Linked DNA regions of Homo sapiens. The protein of the gene in region 3 interacts with the protein of the main gene of each other region in a biochemical or structural test. Each region holds a gene or a part of one and is shown on either strand. Other genes may lie near its edges.

Evidence for each region. The genes of interacting proteins can lie anywhere in the genome.
Region 1: of the proteins of CAPN2 (region 3) and TNS1, one has a biochemical effect on the other in vitro, tested with the Homo sapiens proteins (one study listed by IntAct).
Region 2: of the proteins of CAPN2 (region 3) and ATXN3, one has a biochemical effect on the other in vitro, tested with the Homo sapiens proteins (2 studies listed by BioGRID).

The regions. Positions count from the first base shown.
Region 1 is NC_000002.12:217,999,996-218,007,504, forward strand, and holds the start of TNS1 (tensin-1), read right to left. Parts: upstream 3,001-7,509; 5' UTR 2,878-3,000; coding exon 2,845-2,877; intron 1-2,844.
Region 2 is NC_000014.9:92,082,583-92,089,582, forward strand, and holds part of ATXN3 (ataxin-3 reference isoform), read right to left. Parts: intron 6,236-7,000; coding exon 6,148-6,235; intron 922-6,147; exon of another isoform or gene 831-921; intron 677-830; coding exon 544-676; intron 1-543. UniProt on the Homo sapiens protein: Deubiquitinating enzyme involved in protein homeostasis maintenance, transcription, cytoskeleton regulation, myogenesis and degradation of misfolded chaperone substrates.
Region 3 is NC_000001.11:223,750,527-223,757,622, reverse strand, and holds part of CAPN2 (calpain-2 catalytic subunit), read right to left. Parts: intron 6,734-7,096; coding exon 6,648-6,733; intron 5,627-6,647; coding exon 5,552-5,626; intron 4,828-5,551; coding exon 4,667-4,827; intron 2,144-4,666; coding exon 1,974-2,143; intron 255-1,973; coding exon 243-254; intron 1-242. UniProt on the Homo sapiens protein: Calcium-regulated non-lysosomal thiol-protease which catalyzes limited proteolysis of substrates involved in cytoskeletal remodeling and signal transduction. Proteolytically cleaves MYOC at 'Arg-226'.

The sequences.
Region 1 (7,509 bases), on a different chromosome or scaffold from region 3:
GACCAGTGAGTCCCTCTGGAAGGAAGGGCCTCCACCTCTAACTCCTCCAGCACAACATCAAAAAGCCTCAATTGCTAGGCATGCAATTATTTTCTAAATAAACCGTACTTGAATATGTAATAGCAAATGGGAGCACTTGATGAGAAAATCAAGTTATGCATAATAAATAGCTCTGCTCCTCAGCTAATAAAGTGATTTTTATTCCTAGGACTTGTTAAAACTATGCACTACAGATATATTACTTCTTAGATGACACAATTGCAGCTTTCCCCATACAGGAACATGTGAACCAATAGATGCAAGCACTCACTCTAGGGCACAAGAACTATCTCAGTCACTTCCTGGCCTCAGAGTAGCTGGTCAGAGTCCCTGGGCAGTCAGCCCAGGAGTAGAGCCCAAGGAGTAGAGCCCTGTCCCATGACACCATTCCCAGGGAGATCCTCCCCCAGCATCAGGTCTGGGATACAGAGGATCCCAAGAACCAGGCAGGAGACTGTGGAGTGGGAAAGGGGCCAGCATTTGCTGAGCACCTACTGCATGCCTACATACCTGATCTTTTGATATCTATTGTCTCTTTCCCCACCCTAGCCATACAAGGAGTATATTATTCTCTGCACTTTACAGATCAAGAAATTGAGGCTCATGAAGGGAACTGCTTTACCAAGCCTGCCCATACCAAACGATGGAAATAGGGTTTGAGCCTAGTCCTATCTGGTGCCAGGACTGCTTCCTCTGTCCAGTCCCTACTGCCCCAGTCTCTGGCCCATCCTGGCCATGGGCATCACAGCCAGCCTAGAAAGGATGGGGACTAGGAGAGGAGAGGAAAAGGAGACAGGGGAGGGACACAGGCTTTTCTAGTCTTAAAGACACTCAAGGCCAGGCGCAGTGGCTCACACCTATAATCCCAGCACTTTGGGAGGCTGAGACGGGAGGATCACTTGAGGTCAGGAGTTCGAGGCCAGCCTGGCCAACACGATGAAACCCCATCTCTACTAAAAATATAAAAAATTAGCTGGACATGTTGGCACGCACTTGTAGTCCCAGCTACTCGGGAGGCTGAGGCAGGAGAATTGCTTGGACCCAGGAGGTAGAGGTTATAGTGAGCCAAGATCATGCCATTGCACTCCAGCCTGGGTGACAGAGTGAGACTCCATCTCAATTAAAAAAAAAATGAATAAATAAAAATAAAGACACTCAAGGAAGCAGCACTCACAGCTGCCTTGGTCCCCAGACTCTTCCCCTTACTCTCAGGGAGGGTATAACACCCATAGGGCACTCTACCTGCCAGGCACTGCCCTGGGGAATTGGATACAAAATTTCATCCCTACCTCTCTGTACCCTGTTTCTCTGCAATCCTCATTTCACCAACGGGAAAGCAGAGGCTCACCAGGATGAGGCACTTTTCCCAGTATCAGTCAGCTGAAGGGATCTATAGAGCCCTCTCTCCAGTCACAGCAGCTCGTCACCCCTGGAGGTCTACCTGCCATCCTTCTTGTGTCACCCCTGGACGTCTACCTGCCATCCTTCTTGCTGCAGAGCTCCCTCCTGCCTACCTCTGTCCTCAGCACAGAGACGAACCTGGCCAAGGCTCCCATTTCCCAGATGTCAACACCAGCCCAGTAAACCACAAATGCATCCTGTGTGCAGGCCTCCCCAGTCACTCTCAATCTATTAATCCAATCCATCCCAGCACCCCAGCCCAACATGCCACCCAAACCGCCTCATTCCAGGCCCCCTCCCCCACCCTTTCTTTCTTTGCCCAGAGGACACCTGGCTGCCCGAGTTTGTGTTCCCACAACTGCCCCCAGCATGGGCTTGCCTGGGCCAAGAGGGCCCTCCCGAGGACTGGCCAGAACAAGGAAAGGGACAGGAAAGGCCACATCTGGATCACAGCCCTGAAGCCCCCTCCCCCAAACCAGCCATCACTCTCTCAGAGCCCAACAGTAACCTCAGCCAGGGACGACTTCCTCACCCTCCTGACCCCATGCATGCCTTTGCCTGGCCAAGACAGCCCCACAGGAGCCCCTCTGAGGAAGGGGTCCTCTCCTCCTCTGACCCCCAGCCCTTCTGCAGCAGGCAGCCCTCTCCCATCCCCCTTTACCCAGGAGCCTCAGCCCAGGTCTGGCCTTAAGACTTTTAACCTTCACCACGTGGCCCCCAGGCCTCTCTGCTGGCCCCCCTGGCATCCCCATCCTGAAACCCACCTCCCTGAACCTGGAGCCAAGAGAGAAAGGGGGAAGAGCGGGCCATGGCTCCCTCCTCCAGGATGGAGAGGTCTTGGTAGCAGGGGAGGGCTGTGGAGGAAGGGATGGCAGTGGGTGGAAGCTGAAACTGGGTGTAGAAGGAATAAAAGGGATGGACTCTGAGAATTCTCCCACAGCCCAGCTCTTCCAGACTTAATATTTTGGACTACTATTCTTTGCTCCCCAGCCCCACCACTGCCTCCTCCTCAAGATCTTGGGCTCAGCAACTGAGGGGGGGCGGTGAAGAATTTTCACCCCATTGTAGGATGCAAGTCGGGAGGAAAGGCTCTAAAGAGAAGCAAACTTCTCTGTGGCCTCCTTCCACTTACAGCTCTGGGACTCCATTGGGGGGTGGGGGGGTGGGGCAGGGGATGTACTGACCCGGGACCCTGGGCCTGGGCCCTGTTGGTGGGGAAAGTCTTCCGGCTGAGGGTTGCTCAAGTCAGTCTGTCCTTCTGTAGGTCAGAGACAGAAAGGCCCCTCCTTCAAGACTGACACCCCCCGACCCCGGGCTCTCAGCAAAAGGATAAGGTGGCAGGGGCCGGTGGGGGGCGGGGGGTTTGAGGAAGAGTAACGTCGCAGCTAAAGCAGCCAGACCTACCCAGAGCATGCAGGACAGACAGATCCACGTCATCTTTGCTGGGTCCCGTCACTGAGGCACGCCCAGGGCCTGTGAAGAGCCCCTGAAGCTAGAGTCCCCGCGGCGCTGGCAGAAGGGCTCTCTGAGTCCGCGGCTGCTCCGGCTCCGCCAGCATCTGCTGGGCCTCTCGCCCTGCTGCCTCCAGCTCACCCTCCCTCCTCCTCCTCCTCCCCCCACTCCACCCCTCGTCCCAGCCTCCTCTCTCCTCCCTCCTCCCAGGCTCCACCGGTGGCCTTGAGGGTCAGGAACCCTGCTTTGCAGGGGGTGTAAAGGGGACAGGGAAAAGGGAAAGCTACCAGAGGCAGGGCCCCCCCAGGCCGTGCCCCCCACCCCCGGACACACAACCCCTGTGTGCCACCAAGGCTCCTCAGTCTTCTGATCTGGTGCTGGTAGGCCTGGAGTCCTCCCTCCTCACTGCAGACCCCCGCCCCTGGCAAACCAGCCTGGGGGCCTTCACTCCTGGAACCCTCCAGACCACTGATGGATGAACAGACAGCCCCAGGCCCACACAATCAGCACACTCAGGGTGCCTTGGCCCCTCCCCTTCTCTGAGTACCCGTGCCTGCCTTCCTGGCCTCCTCGGAACACACATGCATTTGCACACACAGACTGGGACAGACTCTGGTGCCCACGCGCCAAGCTCAGAGCCCAGGACAGGCCTTAACACAGAAGAAATAGGGCCCGAGACTGGGGAAGAATGGCCCTGCCCCCAGGCTGTGGGTTTCATTCCAATTTTTTTCCTATTTCTTTTTTTTTCCCCCTTCTTTCTTTCTTTCCTGCAAACATCTGTCCCAGCCTTTCCTGCCCTTCTGAAAGGGAGCCCCGCTCCAGGCTCCCGCGAGAGTGTGTTTTTCTTGACTGTACCCGGGGCCAACATTTGGTTTGCATTTCCCCACTTCCTCCCCCTCCTCCCCTCTCCCCCTCCCTGGGCCCAGTTCTCCCCTCCCACCATTCCACAGGCCTATTTCTTCCCCTCAGTGTCCCCTGCCCACCAGCCCTCCCCTCCCCTCGCCCCCACCTCTGCCCAGGGACAATTGTTGGGGGTCTAGAGGGTGGAAAGGAGGCTGGGTCAAAACCCAAAAGTATTCCCACGGAGCACTAAGGGGGAATCCAGCAAAGTCTGCCCCAGGCCTTCATTGTCTGGAACCACCACGTTCCCCTCCAAAAAAAACCCTTCCTCTTTGAGCTCTGGCCTTGGCTGGACCAACTGAGGGTGGGTGGGGGCCAGTGAATCACCCGCTCTGTTCTTTGGAGCTGTCCAGGAGAAGGAGGGAGGGCTCAGCCCCACACCCTCCTGTGGACACACACACACACAAGGACACAGTCCAACTCACGTCAACACATAAGAGCCCTCCCAGAGTAGGCACTTGGAGACCTCGTTCCTAGACTGAGTCACTTAGCAAGAAAAGTTCTCTTGCCTGGCCTCCTATGCACACTGTGCTATACATGCCCTGGGGCCACATGCACGAAGGGTTACAGATCCCCTGCCTCCCCCCCCCACTCACCCAAGGCCATGCCATGCCGCTGTCTGTCAGCACCACATACCGTGCAACTACCAGCCTCCTCTTTCACAGGGATCTGCCCAGCCACTTGTGCCAACTCCCAGCCCAGGGACCACCCAAGACATCTACCTGGGAAACCCCAGAATGAAGGGGAAACACTGACTCTTCATCTGAAAAAAAGACTGCAGTATTCAGATACACAGGTTGTCCACAGCACAAGGGACTAACCATCTATTGTTTGGTGGTTCTGAGAAGTCAGGGGAGGACACTGAAGTGAAGTGTCAATTTCCAGCCCTTCCTAAAGCAGGTACCTGAGTGAAGAGTCTTTGTTCCGGTAGAGGAGTCAGGGTCCTCTCTCCATACTTCTCCAAGTCCTCCAGAGCTCTGGGGCTGGGAAAGATCCTGCCTCTAGTGTCCTTCCCTGCCAGGATCACAATGTCCCTCTGGACCCCCTACTCTAAGCCTCCTGGGGCTTCACTGACATTTTAGCCAACGCTGAAATGAACCAGTGTTCCACATGCAGTTGGCCCTGCAGTCACAGCTGGGGATGTCCATAGACAGAAACCTCTGCAAACCCTCCCGTCTCCCCTGGCTGGAGCACCAGGCAAGCAAAGGGGAGTGGTCTTCAGGAGGCCTCTCTGAGAGCCCCTGAGCCCCTCCTCAGCCACTATCACCAGCTCTGCCAGGCTGCCCTTGTCCCCTGACAAGTTCAAGCCTTCAGCCAGCTAAGCCCTGACATCCCAGTGCCCACTCACACCAAGCTCCCCGCTGCCTGCTCCCACAGCCCTTCACTGCTGGCGTCACTGAAGACGCCTCCAGGCAGCTTTCTCTGGAGTTCTGAGAAGTCACCTTGGGGCTTCCCAGAAATGCTGGAAAATCAAACCAAAAACCAAGTCACAGTGACACCAACTTGTCTGGCCTCCTACACAGCCCGAGGAGGCCCTGCTGCTTCCCCAGACTCCTCAGCTAGGACTGTGAATGGAAGTAGGGGACCCTAGTGCTGGGGGTTCCCTTGGAGAAACCCTCCCTCCAGAATACCCCCATCCCTCTTCTCCAAGCCTATGGGGTCTCTCCTGTATATTAATCGCTTATCATCAAGATGTCCTTCCTGCTAATTAACCACCATTTTCCCTGTTGAATGTTAAACTCTGCCGACTGAGGTGTCTCTAACTGTGTGTAATGACCCTGTTCCAGGCTTGTCAGCCTTTATTCCTCCTTCACAGCCTGGTGTCTCCACCCCAACCCACACACGGGCAAGGACGTGTCCTGTGTTTTGTATCCCCAGAGCCTGGCATACAGCAGGCACCAGACATGGTTGAAGAATGACTCAATCACTCAATCAATTAGTCAATGGATCCTAACATATTTTCCTACTGTAAGCATTCACTGCCTCCTTCCCAAACCTTCCTTCTTTTCCCTTCAAAAGGGCCTCAGGCAGCCCTGCCTGTACACTTTTGCCCACAATTTCAGTGCCACCCTATCTGCAGCCACCTCTGCCTGCTGCCAATGCCCCATTCCCAAGCTCTAGCCAGCTGCAGACTCTCCGCAGGCCTGGATGGTTTCATTCATCTTGGGATCCCCACCCTGTGCCCAGACCCCTGTCTCACACACAGCAGACATGGAGTACACACTGGAGGACTGGCTGGGGCTCTACACTGGCATCCCAGAAGCCTCAGAACCCAGCCCCAACCCTGTGCCATCCCCATTTCTGCCTTCCCGCTGCATGCGGAGACCTCCCTCCGCTCATCCCTCCAGCCCCCTGCTCAGCAGCCAGCTGAAGAAACAGAGTCAGGTCTGTGGGCTGTGGTGCTGGCCCTGGGGCTGGAGGAGGGTGGAGCCAAGGCAGAAGGAAGGGTGAGTGTGGTCAGGAATGAGCTAATGGCCTTAGAGCCTGAGCCTGGCAGGCCCCTCCCTGGGCCTCAGTTTCCTTTACCTGTAGAATAACAGGACTGATGGCCTCCAAGGTCCCTTCCAGCTCCACCTTCTGCGATGACACGAGTTTCCCAGGCCAAGGCCCCAGCCCCATCCAATTCACTCTTCCTTTCCTTTGACTCTTGTCCACCAAAATATTCTTACTGATGTCCACCCCTCTCCTACCAGGGCGTTAAGCCTTTCCTTTGTCACCACTGGTCACAGCATCTGAAGGTAACAGAGCATTTTAAAGCTGGAAAGGTCTTCAAGCTCAGCTGCCCAGGGGTCACGGTAACAGCCTTTGGGGGTCACCTAGAAGTTCAATGAGGGGAGCGGGCAAGGGGTCACAAGGGCCTGGTGAGGACAGGCCCCAGCTGAGGGGGATGCCCACTCCTTGGTTCCCCACTACAGCATGCAGCAACACAAGCCCACATCTCCACATGTTTTGATCTGCCATAGAACCCTCAACTCCATATTTTATATAAAATATTTTTACAAAATTGAAAAAATACAAATTTGAAAGTGTTGGCTTAAAAAAAAACCACTCTGAAGGTCCAAGCGAATGTGTTTGCCAGGAGGGTTAGTCTCAGGGCACCGCTAGCCTAATCCAGCCCCCTTGCTTAACAGACAGCCACACTGCGTCAAGAAAGGTGGCGTGACTCATCAGAGGTCACAGAGCCCATAAAAAGCAGAGATCCAGTCTCTCAGTTCCCAGACCCTGGATTTTTTCCCTAAACCCTGCAGCCTGCCACCTCTCACAATGGGGCCACTCACACTGCAGCCTTCCTCCCAGACCATCCTGAGGGGCCCACATCCAACAGGTAAGGGCAGACCTGGCAATGGGGTTCTTCACCAGTGTCCAGGTAAAGATCCCAACAGCACGAGACCCAGGAATCTACACCAAAGCACTCAGCTCCTGGACCTCCACCCTCTCAGCCCCTCAGATTCTGGTATTCTCCCCCTTCCCCAGGAAAGATTAATACCAATTAACTAGGCACTTGGCTTGCTGCATTGTCTTGAAGGCTCCTACTAACCCTCATTTTGTAAATGCAGAAACTGAGGCACATAGAGGTTCAGCAACCAGCTCAGGGTCACACAGCTAGTATGATGTGTGAAAATGGAGCTCAGGTCATCTGATTCCACATCTCCCATGGATGGAGAATGTTCTTACAGCAATACGGCCACCCCAGGACTAGGGGCTATGCTTCCATGT
Region 2 (7,000 bases), on a different chromosome or scaffold from region 3:
AATAAGCTCTAGTAATATAATGATTGTGTTGCAATTTGAATCCAACTAAGTTTTTTTTTTCCGTTTCTTTTTTTTTTTTTTTTTGAGACAGGGTCTGACTCTCTCGACCAGGCTGGAGTGCGGTAGTGTGATTATGGCTCACTGTAGTCTCTACCTCCCCAGTTTCAGGTGATCCTTCTTCCTCTGCCTCCCAAGTAGCTGGGACTATAGGCATACACCACCACATCTGGCTAATTTTTGTACTATTTGTAGAGATGAGGTTTTGCCATGTTGCCCAGGCTGGTCTCGAACTCCTGGGTTGAAGCAATCAGCCTGCCTCAGCCTCCCGAAGTGCTAGGAATATACCATACCAGCTAACTAAGTTAATATATTTAAGTATTTCAAAGAGTTGATTCAAGTTTAAACTAATAAACTTCACTAAAATATAAGGTCCAAAATAGAGTCGCCAACAACACAAGGACCACATATTCAATCTAAGCATGAAAATTTAATTCTCATAATGAAATACTACCATATATTCCATACTGCAGGCCTCATTTTTACCTTTGCTCTTTTAGTTGTGCTAATTCTTCTCCAATAAGTTTTGGTCGATGCATCTGTTGGACCCTAATCATCTGCAGGAGTTGGTCAGCTTCGCAATCTGGCAGATCACCCTTAACGACAAATATAGAATAACCTAAAAAAAAAAGGCAAAAATCAACCTAACCAGTTAGTAAAGAGATTCAAAATTGATGTAAAACACTAGTAGATAAAAAGGCAGCACAGAACACTGGAAAAAAATACAAGCTGAGGATTCAGAAAGACTTTAGTCCAAATAATGATTCTTATACTTACTAGTAAAGTCGTCTAAGGTAAGTTACTTAAAGTCTCTGAGCCTCACTTTCTCCATTGTAAGACTGGAAGAGCCGTCTCATTGAGTGACTGTGAGAAATAAATATGTCTGTAAAGGGCCCTACTAATATAGTACTTGACTGAGCAGGCTACTCACTTACTGTTGTCAGAGTGGGTAACAGCAACTGATTTAGAATCAGACTGCCTGCATCTGATCCCAGTTCTCCCACTTCCTAGCTGCATTTGTCTTGGTTTCTACTGTTAAACATATGATACTAGTACCTTCCTGTGATGGTTAATATTATCAACTTGATTGGATTGAAGGCTACAAATTATTGTTTCTGGGTGTGTCTGCGAGGGTGTTGCCAAAGGAGATTAACATTTAAGCCAGTGAACTGGGAGAGGTAGACCCACCCTCAAACTGGGTGGTCACCATCTAATCAGCTGCCAGCTCAGCTAGAATAAAGCAGGCAGAAATAAGAGTGTGGAAGTACTAGACTTGCTGAGCCTTCATCTTTCTCCCATGCTGGATGCTTCCTGCCCTCAAACATCAGACTCCAAGTTCTTCATCTTTTGGACTCTTGAACTTACACCAGTGGTTTGCCAGGGGCTCTCAGGCCTTTTGCCACAGACTGAAGGCTGCACTGTCAGCTTCCCTACTTTTGAGGTTTTGGGACTTGGACTGGCTTCCTGGTTCCTCAGCCTGCAGAGAGCCTATTGTGGGACTTCACCTTGTGATCATACGAGTCGATACTCCTTAATACATTACCCTTCATATATACATCTACCTTATTAGTTCTGTCCCTCTAGAGAACCCTAATACACTTACTCACAGGGCTGCTGTGAGGACACAGATAATGTGTGCAATAACTAGTAACATGGCTAAAACTAATCATCTGCGGAAAGAGCTACCCCCACCCTGACCCACACATGTACACCCCTTGTAACTAAAAATAGGGGCTGGGAAGCCAAATACCTAAAAGCTATTTAAGGTGTCAAACGTGTGGTTTGCATCCCAAAAGAATTACATTAGTCTAGTGTGACTGTGTCTAAATATGATTCCAGAAATCCAGGGTTTCCCCAAGCTAGATGCTACACACAAAAACCAAGGATGGGCTATACCTAAAACAATCTAACTGATTTAAGTTTCTCTATCATTAATTTTTTTTTTTTTTTAATTTGAGATGGAGTCTCACTCTGTCACCCAGGCTGGAGTGCAGTGGTGCAATATTAGCTCACTGCAACCTCTGCCTCCCAGGAGGTTCAAGCGATTCTCCTGCCTCAGCCTCCTGAGTAGCTGGGATTACAGGCACCCACCACCACACCCAGTTAATGTTTGTATTTTTAGGAGAGGCAGGGTTTCACCATGTTGGCTGGGCTGGTCTCGAACTCCTGACCTCAGGTGATCTGCCCACCTCGGCCTCCCAAAGTGCTGGGATTACAGGTGTGAGCCACCGCGCCTAGCACATTTTTCTTAAACTTTGGTGTTTGTTATTGGATATCCTTTGTTGGATTAACACATAATGGGACAAAGATTATAAGAACTATTAATGGAAAACCTCAAAATAGTATGTTGAACATTTTTTATGAGGACAACTGTATTCAGAGTTTAGACGGTTTAATGTGTTTTCTGCCAGTAAAATTGTTTCTGTATTGTATAATAAATATGCCAGCTCACCATGGTATTCTATGAAGAGTGTCTGAAGAATGGATACTCTGCCCTGTTCAGGGGCCATGGTAAAGATCTTGGGTTTTATTCAAGACTTCACATATTTTTTTTTTTTAATTTTTTTTTGAGAGTCTCGTTCTGTCACCCAGGCTGGAGTGCAGTGGTATGATCTTGGCTCGCTGTAACCTCTGCCTCCCGGGTTCAAGTGATTCTCCTATCTCAGCCTCCCGAGTAGCTGGGACTACAGGTGCACAACACCACACCCAGTTAATTTTTGTATTTTTTGGTAGAGACAGGGTTTCACCATGTTGGCCAGGCTGGTCTCATCAACTCCTGACCTCAAGTGATCTGCCCCCTCATCCTCCCAAAGTGCTGGGATTGCAGGCATGAGCCACCAAGCCCGGCCTAAGACTTCAGATTTTATTCTAAGTGTGCTGGGAAGCCACTGAAGGACAAAGAGTGAGGGTGGGACATAACAGGCCTTACACTGGTTAAGAAGCACTCTGGGCTGCTCTGTCGGTATAATATATAGGAACCAGAGTACAAGAGTCACCCTTATGGAAATGGAAAACCTGATGGATAGCATGGATAGAGAGAAAAAAATAAGTCTTTCATAGACATGTTCAGTTTGAAACACTTTTTGGATTTCCAAGTGGAGATGCCAAAGCTAGGAGTTAGTCAAAGCTAGGTGTTCAGGGTAGATGTCAAGACTAAAGATAAAAGTTTGGTAATTATTGACACATAGATCTTATTTACAGATGATATTTAAGATCCATGAAAGGAATCTGAAAAGTGCAGGCAGCAAGTTAGGAAAACCACAGCATGGTGGGCTGAAGGCCAAAGGTAGACAGGGTTTCTAAGAAGGGATATCATCAGGAACCAAGGTTTTAAATATAAAAGAAAAAAGATACAAGTATCTAAAATCAAAGAATTAAAAACCCTATATTCCTAAATGTGAATTCACAATAACTACATAACAAACCCAGCAGCAATAAGCATGCCAGCACTCAAATTGTGATCTCCAAATACCATTACTAAAAGATGGCTAGGCAAGGTGACTCACGCCTGTAATCCCAGCACTTTGGGAGGCTGAGGCAGGTGGATCACTCGAGGCCAGGAATTCGAGACCAACCTGGCCAATATGGTGAAACCCTGTCTCTACTAAAAATACAAAAAAAAAAAAAAAAAATTTAGCCGGGGCCAGGCGCAGTGGCTCATGCCTGTAATCCCAGCACTTTAGGGGGCCGAGGTGGGCGGCTCACCTGAGGTCAGGAGTTGGAGACCAGCCTAACAAACATGGAGAAACCCCTTCCATCTCTACTAAAATACAAAATTAGCCAGGCATGGTGGCACATGCCTGTAAATCCAGCTACTCGGGAGGCTGAGGCAAGAAAATCGCTTGAACCCAGGAGGCAGAAGTTACGGTGAGCCGAGATCACGCCATTGCACTCCAGCCGGAGCAACAAGAGGGAAACTCCATCTCAAAAAAAAAAAAAAAAAATTAGCCGGTCATGGTGGTGCACGCCTGTAATCCCAGCTACTCGGGAGGTTGAGGCAGGAGAATCGCTTGAACCCAGGAGGCAGAGTTCAAGAAAAGGAGAAGGCACACTAGAGACAATCCTAAGGAAAAAATAAAAATGGGGAGGCAGCTGGAGTTTCATGGAATTAAGAGAGGATTTTTATTTTTAATCAATGGAAATAAAAAGCTTATTTTACTGCTTATAGGAATATTACAAAAAAAGGGGGGGGGAACTGATTATATAAGAGAGTGGAGAGATGAAAGCAGGAACATCTTGAGTAGGTGAGAAGAGCTGGGATCCAGCCCACAAGTGAGGGACTGGTTTTGGTTAGAGGTAGGGGACCATTCATCTATTTAAATAGGCTCAAAGCACAGGTGAAGATATAAGCAAATTGATAAATTTGCTGGTAGAAAGAACATAATTTTAATTGCTTCTATGTTCTCAGCAGAATGTAACGGAAAGCCACAAGGAAGGTGTGTAAGGGAGAGGAAAGTGCTTAAAGGTTTAAAGACATAAGCTGTGAAATTAGTCACCTTGGAGGGTGGCACATTATTTTTTATAAACTTCTTGGAGAGTGGTACATAATTTTTTATAAACACCTTGGAGGGTGGTACATCACTAAGAAAACATAGTAGAAATATCAGACAGCACTAAAGGCTCATCTGAATTTTGTGATTATAATAAATTTAAAGTAAAACCTTAGCTAGGTGTGGTAGCACAAGCCTGTAGTCCCAGCTACTCAACAGGCTAAGGCAAGAGAATCACTTGAGCCCAGGAGTTTGGAGCTGCAATGAGCTGTGATTATGCTGCTGCACTCCAGCCTGGGCTTCAGAAATAGGCCTAGTCACTTTGATAGATGGATGGGTGAATGGATGGATAGATCATTTAAGAAAAAAGTAAAACCAATCATCATGTTTTATGTTATTTTTTAGCCACGTCCAGCTACTCTGGTACAGGAATGGACAAGGCCAAGATGTGGTTTAACCAGGGTTGAGATTTTTGTCATTCAAGTATGATGGAGGGAGAGAGGGGAAACACGTTGAAGAATGCAATGGAGTGATTATGATGACGGATTACAGAAAATAAGCAGTAGAAGAAAGGAAGAATGCGTATAAAGGAAATGCTTGGGCCCCACAGTAGGGTTTAAAGAATGGCTGGAATAAAAAAACAGACAAAACATGGTTTAAAGATAGGAGGTGGTAGTTAAAGAGTAATATGCTTGCAATTGAGATTTGACAGTGGTTATGATTACTGGTAATAGCTAAGCAAGAGTAAGTGATTTTGAAACTAAGAGGCAGGTACTGGATTGATTGACGATACAGAAATAATTAAGAATGATAAAAGTAGTTGAAGTAGAGAAAAAGACAACGAGTCAGATCCTAAAATCACTGATGAAAAGAGACTTGTGGATGAGTGCAAAAGGACAAGGGATAGTTTAATCTAGGGGCATGTATTTCTTTTTTTTTTCTTTTCTTTTTTTTTTTGAGACGGAGTCTCGCTCTGTCGCCCAGGCTGGAGGGCAGTGGCGCGATCTCAGCTCACTGCAAGCTCCGCCTCCTGGGTTCACGCCATTCTCCTGCCTCAGCCTCCCGAGTAGCTCGGACTACAGGCGTCCGCCACCACACCCCGGCTAATTTTTTGTTATTTTTAGTAGAGACAGGATTTCACCGTGTTAGCCAGGATGGTCTCGATCTCCTGACATCGTGATCCGCCTGCCTCAGCCTCCCAAAGTGCTGGGATTACAGGCGTGAGCCACCGTGCCCAGCCGTTAGGGGCATGTATTTCAAAGAAACTGGAGTTTATAAGGAAGAACAGTGGCCTAGAAGAGGCAAAGAAGAAAAACATCTATCCCTCCTCTCAGCCGTGTGATATGTGATGTATAAAAGAAAAAGCCATTACTTAGAAGGGCTGCAAAGAAAGCAGCATCCTCAGAAGAGGAAGGGCCAGGTGTCAGTGAGAACTCTAACTGAACAGCGTCACCCAAATCACAGCCTATCACCACGTCAAAACTAAAGATTGTTTCACTGCCACTGCCAGAAAAACAGTTTTATCACACTGTCATCTAATGTGCCTGGTTATTTAACTACTTCGAAAGGTAACATTACAAAATGTTCAGCCGTTACTTACCTTCCTGTTGTAATTGAGCCAAGAAAAGTGCAAGATATGTATCTGATATTAATTCTGGACCCGTCAAGAGAGAATTCAAGTTAAACCACTGGAAAAAAATTGTCAATATTTAAGTTAGTGTATATTATAGGTAATAAGGAAGTTTCACATGTTAAGAATAGATACAACCCATCAAAGCTTAGTAAGATTGTTTAAACTCTGGAAATATTTCAAGTTGAGCTCTTTTCTTTGACTGAATAATATGATCTTAAAAACTACAAGAGAATACTGCAGATTTATCACTATTAAATACTTTTTTTTTTTTTTGAGAAGAGTCTCACTCTGTAACCCAGGCTGGAGTGCAGTGGCATGATCTCGGATCACTGCAACCTCTGCCTCCCAGGTTCAAGTGATTCTCCTGCCTCAGCCTCCCAAGTAGCTGGGACTACAGGTCTGCACCACCACACCCAGCTAATTTTTGTATTTTTAGTTAGAGACAGCACATTTGCCACATTGGCCAGGCTGGTCTCAAACTCCTGACCTCAAATGATCCGCCCGCCTCAGCCTCCCAAAGTTCTGGGATTACAAACATGAGCCACTGCACCTGGCCTCTGCTAAATACTCTTTTTTTTTTTTTTTTTTTTTTTTTAGACAGAGTATTGCTCTGTCGCCCAGGCTGGAGTGCAGTGGCGCGATCTCGGCTCACTGCAAGCTCCGCCTCCCGGGTTCATGCCATCCTCCTGCCTCAGCCTCCCGAGTAGCTGGGACTACAGGCGCACGCCGCCACACCCAGCTATTTTTTTGTATTTTTAGTAGAGACAGGGTTTCACCATGTTAGCCAGGATGGTCTTGATCTCTTGACCTTGTGATCCGC
Region 3 (7,096 bases):
GGCTCTGCCAGGTCACAGGGAGGCAGCGGGTCCCACAAGGACTTTCCAGAAACCTTGCCCAGAGCTTAGACCAGTGGGATCTAGAGCCTGGGCAACTTCAGCAGGGCCCCAGGGGTGGCCAGGACTCATCCTTCATGACCACCAGCCCCTGCCCGGGCTTCACGACGCTCCCTGAGCTCCAGCAGTCTAAGCCTCTCGCTTTTTTGGTGACCTGAGCACCCCGGGACATGGGCCAGACGTACCTCCTCTGGAACCTGCAAAATAAAGGAGATGCAATTCAGATGCCGGAAAAGCAGTGTAAGAAAATGCATCACTGTGCTCTTCTCTTCCGCTGCCCCCGTTTTCTCTGTAGCATTAGCAATATCAACTAATTCAACCGAGTAACTGTTTTCCAAGGAACTCAAAGCCTCTCCAACACTGAAGAAAATCCTCTTATGTTGATAAGCCCTCACCTCCCTTCCTAACTTAGAGTATAAATCTCAGGCATGGAGATGTGAAGAGACTTGTCTAAGGTGGCAAAGCCCATATCGGCCTCCCACGCAGGGAAAGAGGGCCAGGCGGGCCCTGTTGGAGGAGGCAGCAGGCGAGGTGAAATACACCTGGGGCTAGGAGCCAGCAGTGCCGGCCTCTGTCAGCCAGGTCCAGTGGTCCGGTCTGCATTTCCTTGAGCAAGTCCCCTCTCCTCTCTGGCCTCAGTTTTCTTGTCTCAAAAATAGGACCCAGTGATCCCCAAGGTCCGTCCCAACTCTGAAAGCCCGTGGCTGCATTTCCAAGCCCATAAGCCGGTGGGAGGGAAGCTGTGTATCACAATTCCATTTGCATTGTCCTTGGATCGATTCTGTCCCAGATCCGAAGTCCTCAGCTCCTGTTTCAGAGACGGAGGGGTTTAGGCCTATGTGCATTTTTACAACTGATGGTATTTGCCCAGCTGCCTTTCTCAGGTGGGTGAGCAGGTAGAAGTCAGTGTTCCATGGGTGGCAACGTTGCCAGTGGTGAGCACAGAGCCTCCTCTCCTGACACCTCGTCTGGATTCTCCCAGGGGTGTGCTGGGAAACTGGCTCTTGGGAGAGGGTGGAAGCTCTGATTTGTACTATTTGCCACTTTCCATGGTGTAAACAGGTCCCTGCCAGGGCCATTTTTCAGGCTGCTGAAGGACCTCAGCAGACATGGGTCAGAGAAAAGAGATGGGCTTTGGGAGCCGGGAGGAGCCAGCTCCAGCCCATCAAACCGAAATGCATCCCCAGTCAGTGCCCTAAAGCCTTCCTTTCATCCCTCTCCTCGCATGGCTACCTGCAGCCCACGAAAGCTCTTTCTTGTTTTGCAGAAGGGAGTGGGGAGAGCCCAGGGGCCCAGCGTGTTGGGTGAGTTCTCAGTGCCCCAGCCCCAGCCTGAGGGCGGAGAGGAGACTGCAATGCGGCTGCCCTCTGGCTGTGGCTCAGAGTGAAAGGAAAACACGCATACAGCAGGAGTCTGTGTAGGGATCTGGGCTCCAGCCATCAGAGCCCTGGGGGGAGCATCATGACCAATGTTCCCCTGTCCCCAAGCTCTCCACCATCCAGGCCAATGACTTTGCCGAGCTCTGAGCAGCTGCACCCATGGACTCAGTCCTGCCCTCACAGTATTGCCTGATGTGGCCCAGTATATTCTGTTCTTTGAAGATGGGTAGGCTGACCAGAATGCCAGGCCTGGAGGATGTGAGAAGGGATGTGGAGGCCATTTGAGAGTGGAACTCCCTGCAGGCTGGCTGTGGGGGGCCCGTGAAGGGCTTAGAAGGCCCCACAACCCAGAGCCACTGCAGGGGCCTCCCTACGGGGGCTACTCCTGAGCCTGGCCAGGCTGGTAGTTTTGTTTTTCCTTGGCCAAGCTCCCGGTCTGGGATCCCATCCCCAGTTCTGCCTCTGGGGTCAGCTTTCCATGCAGGGGCTGAGATGAACACATGGGGAAGGGAGGGCAGGAGCCCCTGCGCTCTGCACCTCATAGATGCCAAAGCCGATGGTGTGCATGTCCTCGCCCATCTTCCTCTGCCGCCGTCGGTGCTTCTGAATGAGCCCCACCAGGAAGGTGCAGCCGCTCTCCCCATCCTCCTCGTCCTCATCCTCCTCCTCCAGCTTGATCAGGTACTGAGGGTTCATCCAGAATGTGTCTGCAGCCAGAAAGGGGCAGAGGAGCCCAGCCCTGAGCAGGAATGCATGGGGGTGGGGGGTGGCCCTGGTCTCAGGCTTGGAGGCTTCTGAGAGGGATGGAGATAAAGGGAGATGGTGGGAGGTGGTGGGAGATGGTAAGAGGTGGTGGGGGATGGTGGGAGATGGCAGAGTATGGCAGAAGATGGTGGGAGACAGCGGGAGATGTCAGAAAATGGCGGGAGATGGTGGGAGTTGGCAAGAGGCGGTGGGAGGCTGTGGGAGACAGTGGGAGATGGTGGGAGATGGCAGAGGATGGCAGAAGATGGTCAGAGACGGCAGGCGATGTTGGGAGAGGCTAGGAGGTGGGAGACACCAGGGTTGGAGTGTGGACTGCAGGCTTTGTTAGGCTGGAGACGGGTGACGGTAGCTGTGGAGAGAGGATGACCTGCACTTGTCTGAATCTAACAGGAACCTAAATTAGAAACTTTCTCTTGCAGTTCTCTCTCTGGCTCCAGGCTGGCTTGTCTTGGGGACTGGTCTGTCACTCTGGAACGCAGGGTGGTTAGAGCTGTGGCTTCCCCTCATGGTACCTTCTCTTCACTGGGCTCTGATGGGGAGCCTGGGGCGGGGCTCGGCTGGCCTGGGGGACTCCGGGATCTGCTCCCTGCACTTGCCGGTCGCCGCCCCCTCGGTGAGCCCGGAGGCCAAGAACATCCTGTGTATAATTCCAGACTCTTTCTTGTTCTGCGTCCCTTGTCCTCTCAGGCCTATTCCCTTGCCCTGCTCCTGATGTCTCTGCCCTCTTTACTTCCAAAACCTATTTATTTAAAAAATCTAAGATTCATTCATGTTTAAGGGGAATTATGCTAATTGCCTTTCCATACCTAATGGGATAAAACCCTAACTGTGAAATTACAGGCACCATCTTGTGTAGGGGTTGGCAGCTATGGCTCCGAAGGCCGCTGCCTGTTTTTGTAAATAACGTTTTATTGGAACGTAGCCACGGCCATTCGCTTAAGTATGGCTGCCTTTGGGTTATAGCAATAGAGTTGTTGTTATAGAGACTGAGTGGCCCACAAAGCCAAAATTATTTACTATCTGACCCTTTAGAGGGAGTTTTCCGACTCCTGATCTAGTGGGTAGGAGGGGTCCCTTGTGGGGGGCAGAGGGCCTTCCCAGCGCCTCTGGGACTGCCACTTGGTGGCTGCATACTTGAGGTGAAGGAGTCCGAGCCCCAGAACTGTAGGCCAGCTAGCCGCAGTCTGACTACTTGCTCTGTGGCCCTGGTATGCGACTTAGAGGCTCAGCTTCCTCATCTGTCACAGAGAATCACTATGTGACCATGATCTGCTGCCACTGTACTTACACAGTGACTCCTCAGTCAGGGGGCCTGGGTTCAAATCCCAGCACGCTCTGTGGCCTTCAGCAAGTCACTAGCCTCTCCAAGCCTCAGTTTCCTCATCTTAGAGATGGAGGTGATAAGAAAGTGCCTGCCTCAGAAGTTTGTTGGGAAGGTTAGATAGAATGTTATGCAGGCTGAATATCCCTTATCTGAAATTCCTGGGGCCAGAAGTGTTTCCTATTTTGGATTTTTTTGGATTTTGGAATATTTGTATATACATAACATATCTTAGGGATGGAACTCAAGTCTAATGACAAAACTCATTTCTGTTTCATATATAATTTATACACATAGGCTGAAGGTAATTCTATAGCATATTTAAAATAATTTTGTGCATGAAACAAAGTTTTGACTGTGTTTTGACTGCGACCTGTCACCTGAGGTCAAGTGTCGAATTTTCCACCTGTGGTATCATGTTGGGGCTGAAAAAGTTTTGGATTTTGGAGCATTTCAGATTTCACATTTTCAGATTATGGATCCTCACCCTGTGTACAAAACACTTAGGATAGTTCCAAGCACTGAAGGTGTGCCCCATAATTGGCAGATGTCATCATGTTCAGACAACTGCTGACGGACTAAGCCATGAAGGCAGAAGAATCAAGGGGCTCAACAAAGGCTGGACCAGAGGAGAAATCTTCACCCCATCTGGGCAGCGCCCAGTCAACATTTGCTGATTGAAGTGAGTATGGGGCAACAAACAGGGCCTGATATGTGGAGGGCTCCCTGGGTGCCGGGACAAGGTTCCCTTGTAGGCTCGGCTGCCTGGGTGTGGGGTGCATAGAGCAGCTCATGGCCGTGAAGTGGGATTGAGCACTGCTTCCGTGAGCATGGCGGAAGGTCAGGCTGAAGGTCATGATGGGCGCTGGGGAATCTAGGGCCTGGAGAGGACATCACAGAAACAGTGGCTCTTGGGTTTGTCCTGGGTAGGGCAGGAGGTAAGGGATTGAGAAAGAGAGCTCGGGGAGAAAAGGCTCAGGGAAAAGAAAAGGCTCAGGGAGAAAGAAGACAGAGAGGGTTCCAGTGAGCAGGAGCTGCCTCCTGGGGCTGCTAGGCTGGGGTGTGGTACACAGGGTGGGGTAAGGGGAGCTTTGGCCTTTGGTGGCCCCGCATTGCAACAGCCCTTATATGCAACAGCCCTTACTCGGGTAGTTCCTGCAACCTCCCGCGGTGGAGCCCCGCCTCCAGTTCCCATCCATTTTGGTGAGTTTCCACTTCTTGTAGGTATCGCTGGTGAGAGTGTCTGGGGTCAGGTTACAGATCTCCAGGCGGGAATAGTGCCTCAGGAAGTCACTGAAAGACATCCTGGCAAAAGCAGAGACAATCATCACAGGTGATAAGAAGACACACTGGTAAGCCTTGACTTTCCACCAACACCAGACCAGGAGCCACCCAAAGCCAGGCAGAGCAGCTCATTAGAACTGAGTGGATGGGCACCAGGTTCAGAATCAGAAGGCCCAGATTCCAGTCCTGGCGCTGCAACTTTCTAGCTGGGTGACTTTGAGCAGGTTACTTAAACTTCTCTGAAGCTCAGAACTCTCACCTGCAAAAATGGGAGCCGTGCCCATCAAATGTGACAATATATGGGCCCCATTTGATAAAGAGCATGTTGTGTCCAGGTGCAGGTGGTTATAGAGTGGCGCAGACACACAGACATGTGGGTCCATTGCTGCTCACTAAGGGACCAGTTTCTTAAGGGGCTGGGATGAGTCTCCGGAACCTGGGGGAGAAAGGCCCCATCTTTCCCTTGTTTCCTGGGATCTGAACATTACCAAAGGAATTCCTCTTAGCCTTTTTCTGAAGCTGCTCAGCTTATAAACCCCATTGTCAAGATGGACCGTTGAAGGGGCTTAAGAATTTCTTTATTCAGGCTCTTATAGTGAACTTAAAATAACAAAACCAGGATCCCACACGCTTGTGTCCTCGACATGGTAAACTCACTTTGGCCGACACTCTTTCTAATTAGCAGTTTTCTAGTAAAGAACATTGGGGCAGACAGAGCTTTCCCTGAAGCCTCCACTAATCTTACCAGAATTCTCCATCTTCATGCCGTCTGGTCAGCCTTTCCCTCTCCTCTGGGTCTATAGTGTTCCAGCTTGGGCAGCTGGAAAACAAAGTAAAGAGAGAGGCGTTAGTGTACGATGATTTCTCCCCAAAGGCCCCAGAGTTGAGGAAGAGGGACATCTGCTCTCACCTCTGAGGGCTCAGGCTCCAGAAAGGGGGAAAGTAGCCCACATCTGGCTAACAGCTGCATTTTAATACTCTTACAGCACTTTAAAGAGTATAGAACACTATACAGATGCAAACCAGGGAGCAAAGTGAGCGGGTGAGTTGTGCTGGAAGACAGTGGCAAGGAAGAGTCCAGAAAATGAACATAGTTCATTAGAGGGAGATGGAGTAGCTCAGAGCAGTTGCCCAATTGAGATGGGCCTGGCAGCTCTTTTAGAGACAACTGAAGATCTGATGAGGAGCCTCCGGCTGAGGCCTGGGAAGCCTCAGCAGGTGTCTCTCTGTCCACGGAGCAGAAGGACCTGGCCCTGTACACAGGGGCAGTGCACAGGGTAAACTAACCACTGCCTGAGCTTTGGCTGGAATTACACACAGGCCTCTGTACTGCCCACCTCTCCAACCTGAGGCAGAGCAAGTAGGCTGAGGTTGCCACAGCAGATGTACAAACAAGTGTTTACCCCAAATAGTTGAGGGTTCAACATGCCTACCAGTAAGCCCTGGAAATCAACAGAGGGATGTTTCTCTGGCCTTTGGTACAAAGTTCACATCCCTGTAATAGAAGTGCCTGGGGGAAGGTGGGGTGTATTTTTTTCCCTGAAAGCCCCATAGAAGGGTGGATTTGAGCTAGGGAAGGGGTGAACCTGGAGGCAGTGGCAGGAATGAACTTCACACGAGCAGCTTGGGGCCTGGAAGAAGGCACTCAGGCTGCTGGAGGAGTGTCCTGGTTAAAAGACCCTTTGAGGGGCCCCTGTCCACGGGTCCCTGTCCACGTGGCCTGGGCTCTCCTGGCTATATTTCTCAGAATAATGCACATGTCTTCTTCTCTCGCCCTCTTCCCAGAGCCTCCCAGCACAATGCACCCCCGCCTGGGGCCCCGAGGCCTGCGCCCTCCTCACTTGTCATTCCACCGCCCTGTCCACTCCACTTCTCCCCAGGGATTTCGGATGCGGATCAGTTTCTGTAGGCTTCCGTTACTTTCAACCTGCAGGATTAGATAAAAGGGAGGAGTAAGAGGTTGAGTTCAAGTCAGGGCTATGAAGGCTTGGGCCTCCAACCCCCTTCCGCATGAGCCAGGAGGTATGGGGCTGAGGACGGTGGGGAGGATTTGGGGGTTGAGTCCATGTATGAGGGAGGATCACAAGAGCTAGAGGGGGCTTGGCACCCAGACCTCTCACTGCTGCCTAGCTTTGGAAAATGAGATTTAAAGCTCCCAGGATCCGGCTCTCGAGGATGGGGCTGTTGGTGCTTCATCTCTGAACTTCAGCTTAACTGACAGGATGCGCTTTTGGTAAAGGAGCTCAGAGAAGCTTTACCATTTGTTGAAAGATCACTGGTGATAACAGGC